Homo sapiens: one gene and its partners. The protein of the gene in region 2 interacts with the protein of the main gene of each other region in a pairwise test. Each region holds a gene or a part of one and is shown on either strand. Other genes may lie near its edges.

Evidence for each region.
Region 1: the proteins of YAF2 (region 2) and LGALS7 interact in binary tests that used the Homo sapiens proteins (3 or more experiments, as listed by UniProt).
Region 3: the proteins of YAF2 (region 2) and SPANXN2 interact in binary tests that used the Homo sapiens proteins (3 or more experiments, as listed by UniProt).

Annotation. Positions count from the first base shown.
Region 1 is NC_000019.10:38,771,768-38,775,516, forward strand, and holds the start of LGALS7 (galectin-7), read right to left. Parts: upstream 1,751-3,749; 5' UTR 1,726-1,750; coding exon 1,720-1,725; intron 1,337-1,719; coding exon 1,248-1,336; intron 264-1,247; coding exon 62-263; intron 1-61. UniProt on the Homo sapiens protein: Could be involved in cell-cell and/or cell-matrix interactions necessary for normal growth control. Pro-apoptotic protein that functions intracellularly upstream of JNK activation and cytochrome c release.
Region 2 is NC_000012.12:42,161,628-42,165,376, reverse strand, and holds part of YAF2 (YY1-associated factor 2), read left to right. Parts: intron 1-3,611; coding exon 3,612-3,749. UniProt on the Homo sapiens protein: Binds to MYC and inhibits MYC-mediated transactivation. Also binds to MYCN and enhances MYCN-dependent transcriptional activation. Increases calpain 2-mediated proteolysis of YY1 in vitro.
Region 3 is NC_000023.11:143,714,066-143,717,814, forward strand, and holds part of SPANXN2 (sperm protein associated with the nucleus on the X chromosome N2), read right to left. Parts: intron 1-3,749.

The DNA of each region.
Region 1 (3,749 bases), on a different chromosome or scaffold from region 2:
CCCAACCCTCTGCTCCAGGGACCTAAGTCTTGGCGTCCACGCCCCTGTCGCAGAGACGCACCTTGAAGCCGTCGTCTGACGCGATGATGAGCACCTCGAAGGGCTGCCCGCGCTGGAAAGGAACGCCCGGCCCGCGCTCCTCGCGGCCCCAGGAGCCTTGCTCCTTGCTGTTGAAGACCACCTCCGACGTGTCCAGCCGGGGGTTGAAATGCAGCGCGGCATCGGAGCCCTGCTCCTCCCCGCACAGCAGGTTTACATGGAACCTGGAAGAGGAGGATGGTGGCCGTCAGGGCTCAGAAACCACCCAGACCAAGAAATGTTGAGGGTGAGGAATACCGATGTCTACAATTTACTTTGAATGAATAAGTAAATGAAATGTTGGCTGGGTGCAGTGGCTCACCCTGTAATCCCAGCACTCTGGGAGGTGGAGAAGGGAGGATCGCTTGGGCCCGGAAGTTAAAGACCAGCCTGGGCAACATAGCGAGACCCCACCTTACAAAAAAACGAAAGAACAAACAAAACATAAACCGCCCAGACCAAAGTGAAGGTCTTATGGACTGGCACTCCCCATTCCCAGAGTACCCCCAAATTAACAGGGACCTGAAGACAGGCACACACCGCAGAAGGAGAGGTAGGCGACTAATGACCAGGGAGCTTAGATTCCCAAGGCAGCCAAAATATCATGAGGCCCTTGGCAGAAACCTACCCAGACCAAACTCACTACGCTTAGGGCAGGGTGCCCTCATTTCCAAAGAGCCTGGGAGCTGCCCAGGAGGTCTGGGTGATAGCCAGGGTGCTCCTGATGCTCAGGGAACCCTCAGCTTCTACAGGACAAAGAATAATACCAGGAACCCCAGTATTTCCAGGGTACCTCAGAATCCAGAAGGCCCGAAGTTCCTTAGCCAGGAAGTCAAAGGATGGCTTGGCAAGGACTCCCAGGGTCCAGGGTGTCTCCAGGACTTGGAGTATTTCCAGAGTTCCCTGGGACTCAGACATGGAAGTCATAGGACTATATCTAGGAACCCTGAGATTACCCAGGGACCTCAAATGCTTAGGGAAACTTAGGGACCCCAGCCACAAAGGCACGGGGGCAAATACGAATACATCAGATTTGAGGTCAGAAATGGCCTCGGACTCCTAGCCTGGTGGATACAGGTGGCCTCGGGCCCCTACTTCTGGACTGCAAAAATTGGGAGTCAGCTGATCCTGAGACCTGTACCCTTTACCCCTAGGGCCTGGGGCCTCACCTGCTGGCATTGGGAGGAACCAAGCCGCGAATTCTCAGCACCGTGCCAGGGCGGATGCCCTCGGGCAGTGAGGACTTGTGGGGGACGTTCTGCAAGAGTGGGGTGCAGGGGCCACTGTGAGCCGGTGAGACCGAAGGAGGGAGGCAGAAGGTGGGTCACCCCTCAGAGGAGCCGACCAGGGCTGAGACTGGCAGAAATCAGTGGAAGAGGAAAGGGTGGCGGAGAGGCAGGAAAGAGACCAGAAACAGACAGGGAAACAGATGGGGAGAGCAACAAAGACAAACAGAAAGATCCTCAAAGAGGGCCCCAGAGGAAGCCACAAAGAGGTAGAGGGGACAGTCGGGATGGGGGTTACCCGGAGGCCACAGCCCAGGCCAGTCCGTGGCACACTCACTGCCCACTTGCTCCTTTGAAAGAGGAGCCCCCAGCCCCCTCCCTGCTTGGCCCCGCCCCGGGCCCCTGGAGCACTCACGGACATGGCTGGGACCGGGTTGGGCAGCCGTGGTGGTGGGGCCTGCTGGGGACCTTAAATAAAAGCAGGGCGGGGCTGGCCCTGATGACTCACCCCACCCCTTCCCACCCACCACCCACACCTGGCACGGACCCTGGCCCTGGGGCAAGCCCGGCGAAGCGGGAGTGGCACCTCTTCTTGGGGGCCCTGATCCCCCCATCACCCAGGGCCCGGGTGCACTGCCCCTCTCCTAGGAGCTGATAATAAGAGGGAATGTTTAATAGTAATAAACTCACAGCAGAGAAGGCTCCTTGTGCCACTGCCCCTCCACCCCTGTCTTCCCGCTGCCTGGCACACGGAGAGCCTCTATCTCATTTCATGTATTTATTTGTTAGTAATTTCTCTTATTTTATACACAGACATATTAGGTCCTGGGAGGCCAATCTGGGTGGGAACTCCAGACCCTTCTCTCCAGCTGAGAACCTCCTGCCTGGACTGATCCGTGCTGAAATCTAAGCTTCTGCCTCTGTAATGGAACAGCGGCCACAATAGGAGCACTAGTGACTGACAGGGTGGCTTCATGGGTTCACAGGGGGCCTGCCTGATCCCCTCAGCGCTGCACCCCTGGGTCCTGGAGTGTGCCCAGTTCATGGAAGTCCTCAGTCAGGAGGGGTGAAAGGAGGGGATCCACTAGGACTATGCCTGTCATTTCCAAGGCCCCTCGGCTGCCCAGGAGATGCAGGAAATCACTGATTGGGACCCCATCATTCCAACAGGGAGGAGTATGGGTCACCCCCATTGTACAGAGGAGGAGGCTGAAGCTGGGATGGGAAGCGATTTGCCAAAGGCAGGAGCGTGCAGGACCCGTTGCCCTGACCTCTGGCTCTCCTCACCTCTGCTCGCACCTCTCCTGTGGGTTCTGTCTCTGGGGCTGGCTGTCTCACTCTGTCCGTCTCTGCCCCTAACTCTGTCTACCACATATTCCTGTCCCACTTCTCTCCTTCAAGTCTCTCTTCTTCCTCCTTCCAGGACTGCTACCATCATGCCACCAAGTTTGTAGGTCAGGATGAGGTGGGTTTTGGGGTGGTGGGTGGCCTAGCATTCCATCACCACCTAGATCAAAAGCAGAGCAAGGCGGGGACCCTCCCGCCAGGCCCGAAACAGCCCCCTTGGGCCTAAGACTCTGCAAGAGAACTCAGGGTTGGGGAATTGGCTTGGTGGAGGGGCGGGTAGGGCTGAAAGATGCTTCTGAAAGGCAGGGATGGTGTGGGAGCTGAGCAGAAACCACTCCTAGCAGCCCAGCAGCCCTCCTGGACCTTTTCCACTCGCCACTCCAGCTCCTGCCCCACCCAGCAGGCTGCTGAGAGGCCTGGGCAGAGGCAGGCTGGCAGTGGAAAGTTTGGGTGGAGACAGCAGACCCAGAACCATCCTCCACCCTCTGCGTCCCAGGCCCCCAGCCTCTCGCCCCCTCCCCACACACTCCAAGGCACCAAGCTCAGGGACCAGTTCTTGGGAACATGAGCTCAGAGAGGGAGGCTAGCAGCTGCATTTCAGTAGGGGCTGCAAGCACCCCCATTCTGCAGAGGACAAAACTGAGGCTTAGACAGGGGCCACCTCTCAGTCAAGGAAGAGGCCAGCCCCTCAGCTCCAGAGGGGTCTTTGTGCCAAGGACATGTCATGGGCACGGACAGAGAGGATAGCAGGGTGTCCGGTGATCATACCACCAGCCCAGCTCAGTTAGTTCCCGAGAATGTTCCCCTGAATGGTGGACTCCATTGTTCTAACATTATTGACCATTCTAAAGAAGACACTCTCGCCTGGGCAACACAGCAAGACCTCATCACTACAAAAAATAAAAATAAAATAAAATAGCCCAGTGGGTTGGCGCACATCTGCCTGTAATTCCAGCTACTTGGGAGGCTGAGGCAGGAGAATTGCTTGAGCCCAGGAGATCAGAGGCTGCAGGGAGCTATGATCACACCACAGCTCTCCAGCCTGGGCAACACAGTGAGACCTCAGTCCACAAAAAGAAAAGACACTCCTTACATTAC
Region 2 (3,749 bases):
AAGTCTTAATAAAATGCTTAATGAAGTCGTTTCATTGTTCTCTTATTAAAAGGGTCCATTGTGATACCTGTTTCTCCTGGTATACTGACCATTTAAACATGGACAGAAGTTATTTCCTCTCTGTCTATAATAACTCCTCCTCCTGTTTTCTCTATCACAACACACAGTTTTTTTGTTTTTAATTTTTAGCGCATGAGGGCAGGGCCTATGTTTGTCTTGTTCATGGTTAATCTCCTTACCTAGTGCCTGACACATGTAAATGTGCAATAAAATTTATCAAACAAGTAGTTTCTTTTCTTTTTTTTTTTTTTTTTTGTTCCAGAAGACAGGGTCTCACTCTGTCACCCAGGGTGGAATGCAGTGGTGTGATCGTGGCTCACTGCAACCTCCACCTCCTGGGCTCAAGCGATTTTTCCACCTCAGCCTCCTACAGGCGCGTACCTTTACTGGCCAATTTCTGTATTTTTTTTGTAGAGATGGGTTTTCACTATGTTGCCCAGGCTGGCCTCGAACTCCTGGACTCAAATGATCTGCCTGCCTTGGCCTCCCAAAGTGCTGGGATTACAGGTGTGAGCCACCACGCTTGGTTGTAAACAGGTGGTTTTTTATAAAATCTTTCCTAGGTTAGATTTTTGGGCGTTTGTTAGCCAGAGTATCAACAGATTCACAATATGTATGGATTTAGTCCAGCCTTTTTTTTTTGATGAGATTTACCATATCGCTTCAATTTACCATATATTTTGGTGTTACTAAGCAGATTACTTCTTTTGAAATTTGAGTTATGCTGCCTCTTTTTAGTAAAGAATGTCATTGTTTTTAATACTCTTTTTCTTTCTTTCCTTTCTTTCATCTTACCTGTCCAACATGACAAAGCTAAATTATGATGAAGTTGATCAAGCTGAAAATATTATTCCTCTAATATTTAGCACATGGGATTTTTGTCAGTGGGGGTGGAAGGCAGACCGTAGTTGAAAATTGCATATATGAAGCCAACATGTATTGACCTCCTGCTCACACAGAAGGTCAGCCAGCTCCAAAAATATTTTGTCCTAATGCGTAATAAAATGTTCCCCCTTTTCTTACATTATAGTAAATCAACAGACTGCAAAACTTATACCTTCTATTTGGGCTATCTATGAAAGATACATAGGGATCCCCAAATTGGTGAATATCATATCTGACAAATACAGTCTAATCATGGCATATGTGAATAAGTAGATGATGGACTGTAGTTGGCCAGTGGCTAGACAGTAGTCATTTATTAACTAGGCAACCATTTTGTGCACATCAACTCCTTATCACAGAACCTTTGGCATTACTAAAAGTGTACTGTCAAAACCATGAGTGATAAATCTGTGAACATAAAAGGGTATATTTTATAAATGATACTCTGCCCTTTATTTCCTGAGTTAACTATTTCCTACCTCTAAAATTTCCTCCTATCCTGATTTTTCTCATCAAATAGAAAAGGGATCACAAACCTTAAGATACCTGGAGATAGAAGGGCTTTATTTTTAATAGGGCATGGAGTTGAGTGACTTACGATGTTGTAAAAAGATCATCATAAACTGTGTTCCTCCTACCTTCAGTGAAAGCTCTTTAGCTCCTAGAGAGCAGCAGAGAACTTTATTTGAATAATTGAACTATATACATTTATGTTTTGTGCTTCTTTTCTCTCAGAATTGAACCAGATGAAATAATCATAGAATTGAGGTACAAAATCATAATCTTTAAGTGAAAATCAACCTTCACATTAAAATAAGAATAAAAATGGAATAGTTGTGTAGTATACATTTAGGTAAGCCTAGGATAAAAAGAGAAAGATATGCAACTACTCAAGAACAGAAAAAAAGAACCACTATAGAAAATTTGTTGATGGTTAGAAAATAACAACAAACAACACTAGGTACAGAGATTACATGATCATTTATTAGACCACTAGTCTCACATTTTTACTTCTACTGTAGTGTAGTACCTTTCTATTTCAGACTAATGCCAGTAATCTTTGTAAAATTCAAGTCTGAATTTCTTCAGTGACTTATCATCACTTAAGGATAAAATCAGACTGCTTAGCTTTTAATCATGGGATCCCTTCTTATCTGTCCAGCTTGGTTTTTTTTCACTCTGCCACTCTGCTCTCCATCTCAAACTTTATCTTATAGTAGTAACAGTATTCACCAGATATATTGCATTTCCTCAAGCTTTTTTTTAAAGTGTGGTCCCCAGAGACATCAGCATAACTTGGAAACTAGTTAGAAATACAGTTTCTTGGGCTCTACTTCAAGGCCTACTGAATCAGAAATCCTGCGGGGTAGGGCTAAGCAAGCTAAACAAGCCTTCTTGGTGATTCTGATGTACCTTATATTTGAAAACCACCACCTTAACCCTTTTCTTTTTTAACCTCAGCCATTAACTACCATACTTTCAATATCACTTTTATTTGTGCAACTCTTAATCTACATCTCAAACTCTATGTCAGTCCTATTTTTTAAGTTGTATATTGGACATCTGTCCTGGATATCCTTTCAGTAGTTCAGACTGTCTAGGCCCTGAGCAAAATTCATTATCCATCTCCTGATATCTGCTTTACATACTGTTTCCTATTTTCTCTCAGCCATGCAGCTTTAATTCTTAGATTGTACAATATTTTCTCATTATTTTTTATGTTGTCTTGCCATAGAGGAACAGGAGAAAAAAAGATTTTTTAAAAACTGTACTAACCAAAAAAGGGTGAGGATTTTTCAGGCAATAAAGTTACCATTGTTTGTAGAGCATCTGTTAAAATGTATTTTTATCTTACTTCTTCCCTCCTTCCCTCTGCCTCTTTCCTTGCTATATCCTTCTTTCTCTCTTAAGAACTTAGAGACTGTATTTTGAACCTTAACCTCAGTTGTGCAAGTTCTGTGGCAAAGCTGGACAGGTGAAAGCTTGTACCAGCATCAGATGTTGAAGCCAGGCAACATTTCAGATATCCCTGAACAGTTCTTACAGTAGGTCCTCAATAAATATTTTCTAAATGAGTAAGTTAGCAAGTAGATGAGTCTCAAAAGACTGGGCAGATCTCCAGGGTCAAAAGAGCATGGTGAGATTGTGGCTGGAGATGTAAGAAACTTAAAGGATTTAAGCAATAAGGAGTGAGAAATTTTGATAATAAATGTTTATTAAATGAATAAATGAAAAGCTTTAAAGAACAGATAGCCATTGTCACAAATGGTCAGGTATTTCCTTCTCTGAAGGAGGGATAAATTATTATTTCAGTGAAAACTTTGAAGTTTGATTTTTAGAACTCATGTTTATATGGGTACATCCCATTTTTTTTGATATACATTTAAAATAATTTCTTATGTTGATTTACGTAACAGTATTCTAATGTTTGAGCATATATCTTAGACTATAAATTTTAATTGTTATAGTTTGTTCCATTTTTGTTGAACGGGAAAAACTGATACATATCTTTAAAATTGTATATTTAAATTACCTTACATATGAGGAATTTTTATACTTGAAAGTTATTGTTATTAACTTGTTTTCATAATGTGAGATATTCTGTCATAAAGCACTTATGTTTTAAGTTGTAATTTAAAATACCTTTCTTTTTAACATGCACACAGGAAACCTCGACCTGTCTCCCAGTTGGTTGCACAGCAGGTTACTCAGCAGTTTGTGCCTCCTACACAGTCAAAGAAAGAGAAAAAAGATAAAGTAGAAAAAGAAAAAAGTGAAAAGGAAACAACTAGCAAAAAGAATAG
Region 3 (3,749 bases), on a different chromosome or scaffold from region 2:
TTCCCTCCACCTTCTCCTTCGGATCCGGCTCCTCCACCCCCTTACTGTCGCCCTCCATCCCCCTTCCTTCTCCACCTCAAACCAGGTCTCACACCCAACCCCCTTTCGCTAGGAACCAGGCACATGCCCAAAGGCCTTCCAAAGTCCTTCCCTTGCAGGAGGTTGCGAGGGCTAAAGGCATAATCTGAATTCAAGTTCCCTTCTCTCTAGCTGAGTTTTCCCATATTGAAAGGAGACTTGACTCCTTTTCAATGGATCCAACCTCCTTCCACAAGGAATTCTTGTACTTCCCTAAATCTTATGACCTTACCTGGCATGACATATATGTCATCCTCTCCTCTACCCTCACCCTGGAGGACAGGGAACACATCTTTATGGGTGCCCAGGTCCATGAGAACACCCTCCACCAACAAGATGCTGCTCATAATCCAATAGGGACCCTAGCTGTCCCCAGAACTGGCCCCAGTTGGAATTATCAGGCAACTTCAGTAGACAGACAGAAATCAGGCCATATGATATCATGCCTTCTAGCTGGCATAAATAAAGCTGTCCCTGCTCGTTTCCTCTCCTGCCTTTCAAAAGTCACAACTAAATATGCCACCTTAAGCCCTAATACCAATAAGGGCAAAAACTACCTCCATTTATACTTTATCTCCCAGTCAGACCCAGACATTTGAAAAAAACTTAAAAAACTGGAGGGTGGCCCTCAAACCTTCCAAAGAGACTTAATCAAAGTGGCCTTCAAGATCTATAAGATTAGAGAGGAAGAACTAAAAAATCCAAACCTAAAGAAGGACCAGGCTAAATACCAAATGCTGGTAGCTGCCACTCAACAGGGTTCCCAAGGCCTACAGAATTCCTCAACTTGGCAACAGTCAACTCCAGGAGCCTGTTACAAGTTCGTCTAACAGGGACACTGGGCAAAAGCCTAGCCTAATCCCAGGACACTCTGGAAATCTTGCCCCATCTGTGGTATCAAGCAACACTGGAAGTCAGACTGTGCTCACTGAAACTCTTCATCCTGCTTCACCACCTGTACCTGAAGACAGGTGGGGCCTGGAGTCCACCGCCCCTACTGCCATCACCACCTCGGAACCCAGGGTAATTCTGTCAGTCTCTAGTAAGCCCATGTCTTTCCTATTGGATACTCAATAGGACAACTAGTTACTCAGTTTGACCAGAATATTCTAGACCCTTTTTCTGTTCTTCGATCTCTATTGTGAGAATCAATAAAATCCCCTCTAGGCACAGACTGGTCCTTTATTATACAACCTATTCAGCAGCCCCCTTCACCCACTCTTTCCTGGTTATCCCTCAGTCCCCTACCCCTATCTTGGGATGGGACATATTAAGTAAATTCCAGAACTCCATGCAATGTGGCTCCTACAATTCTACCCCTTTTATTTTACTCTGACACCCAAACGCTTCCCTCTCCCCCCACTCATCCTCATTATCCACCCTGTTACCTTCTGTTAATTCTAAAGCTTGGAATGTTTCTAAACCCACAATAGCCACACATCACATCCCAGTTAAAATAACCCTTCAAAACCCCTCCATTTTCCTTCATCAGTCTCAATATCCCCTTAATCCAGCCTTGCTTAGGGGGTCTCAAACCTATTATCTGTAAACTTTTACAAGCTCATATTCTCAAGCCTGTTAACTCTCCCCACAACACCCCTATTCTGGCTTTCCAAAAGACAGACGGGACTTACCCCTTTGTCTAGGATCTCCAAGTCGTTAACCAGGCCGTGGTACCAATCCATCTAGTGGTCCTCAACCAATATACTCTACTCTACCGTATTGCCCCATCTACCACACACTCCTTTGTATTGAACTAAAAGACAACTATTTCACTATTCCCTTAAATCTGGCTTACCAAAGTCTTTTTGCTTTGACTTGGTCAAATCCTAATACTCACATGTCCTGTACTCTTACAGGACTTACACATGGACTTACACCTAGACTGTACTCTTAGAGGGGTTCCGGGATAGGCCCCACCTGTTCAGACAGGCCCTCATCAAGGACCTAGCTGAACTTCCCCTTGCTCCTAGTACCCTCCTCCAGTATGTCAATGACCTCCTTCTCTGTAGCCCCTTTCTTAACCTGTCCATTCAACACACCACTCAGGTTTTAAACTTCCTTCATAATCAAGTATATTGGGCCTAACCCACAAAATCTCAGGTACCCAAATCAAAGTTACTTACCTTGGGTTTGTTCTAACCCCTAATTCTCGAGCCATCCCAACCCAATGAAAGGAGCCAATTTGGGACATGCCCCTTCCCCACATAAAAAAAAAGGACCTCCCCTCCTTCTTGGGCCTTGTGGGATACTTCTGGCTGTGAATTCCTAACTTTGACTTGCTGGCCAAGCCACTATACGTAGCCTCACATGGGCCCATCCTAAAACCCCTGAACCCAGCTTGCCCCATCAACTCCAACTTAAAAACTTAAAAATGCCCTTTTAATGGCCCTGGCACTGGGACTGCCAAACCTCACCAAGCCTGTTACTTTCTATGTACATTCTGACCAGCGCCTTGCCCTTGGACTACTCTGCCAAACATATGGCAACGCCCCAGAAGCCATTGCACGCCTCTCAAAACAACTGGACTCTGTCATCCGAGGCTGGTCACTCTGACTAAAAATCTTGGGTATGGCCACATTGCTGGCCTTAGATGCACGGAAACTCCCTCTCTACCAACACATTACTATTGCATCTTCCCATTATCTACAGGACCTCATAAACCACCAATCCCTTCTATCCCTCCCACCATCCTGCTTACAGCAGGTGCATGCCTTATTCATAGGTAACCCTCTAATCACCTTCCAGAGACATAAAATTCTCTACCCAGCCACCCTTCTCCCTGTAAACACTTCCGACTCTAAGCTCTCTCACTCCTGTCTGGACCTCTTAGACTCCCTCTCCTCCCCCTTCCAACACATTTCAGATGCCCCTTTGCAGGGAACACATACACGGTTAGTTAATGGAACCTCTTTTAGGCAGCCATGTCCAGCAGCTGGCTATTCCATCAGTGCTGAAGATAAACTCCTAGAATCGAATGCTCTCACACCCCATGCTACCTCTCAACAGGCAAAGCTAGTTGCCCTAACCAGGGCCCTCACCCTAGCAAAGGGAAAGAGGGTCAACATTTACACCCATTCCAAATATGCATACCATGTCCTACAGTCTCATGCCTTCATCTGGCAGGAACAGGGTTTCCTAACTACAAAAGGAACCCCCATAAGAAATGGCAAACTTACACATAAGCTGTTGGGGGTGGATAAACCACCACCAAAGGCCACCATTATCCATTGCAAGGGACACCGAAAGGCTACAGATGCCAAAACCGAGAAAAACCTTTCAACAAATTCGGCAGCCTGGCAGGCAGCCCTTAAAACCCCATCGTTATTGCTCATTTTTTTTCCCAGCATACACCCTGTATATACCCAGCAGGAAAAAAACCCACTTGCCCAGGCTGGTGCCATTCAGGAAAAAATAGTTCGATCTCACTGATAAAGTGTCTTGCCCAAGTTTAAAAAACCTTCTGTACTTTCATATGTGCACAACCATTTCCATGCCGGTTACTGCCCCTACTCCAGCTTTTAAAAACTTCTAGACATTCTTCCACCATGGTTGCCCATCTCAGAGATATTACTAAGGCATGTTCCCTTTGCACTCAAACTTCCCCTCAGGAAGCTATCAAACCATCTCCTTTCCCACACACCAGACCTGAGGACACTTACTAGGGCAGG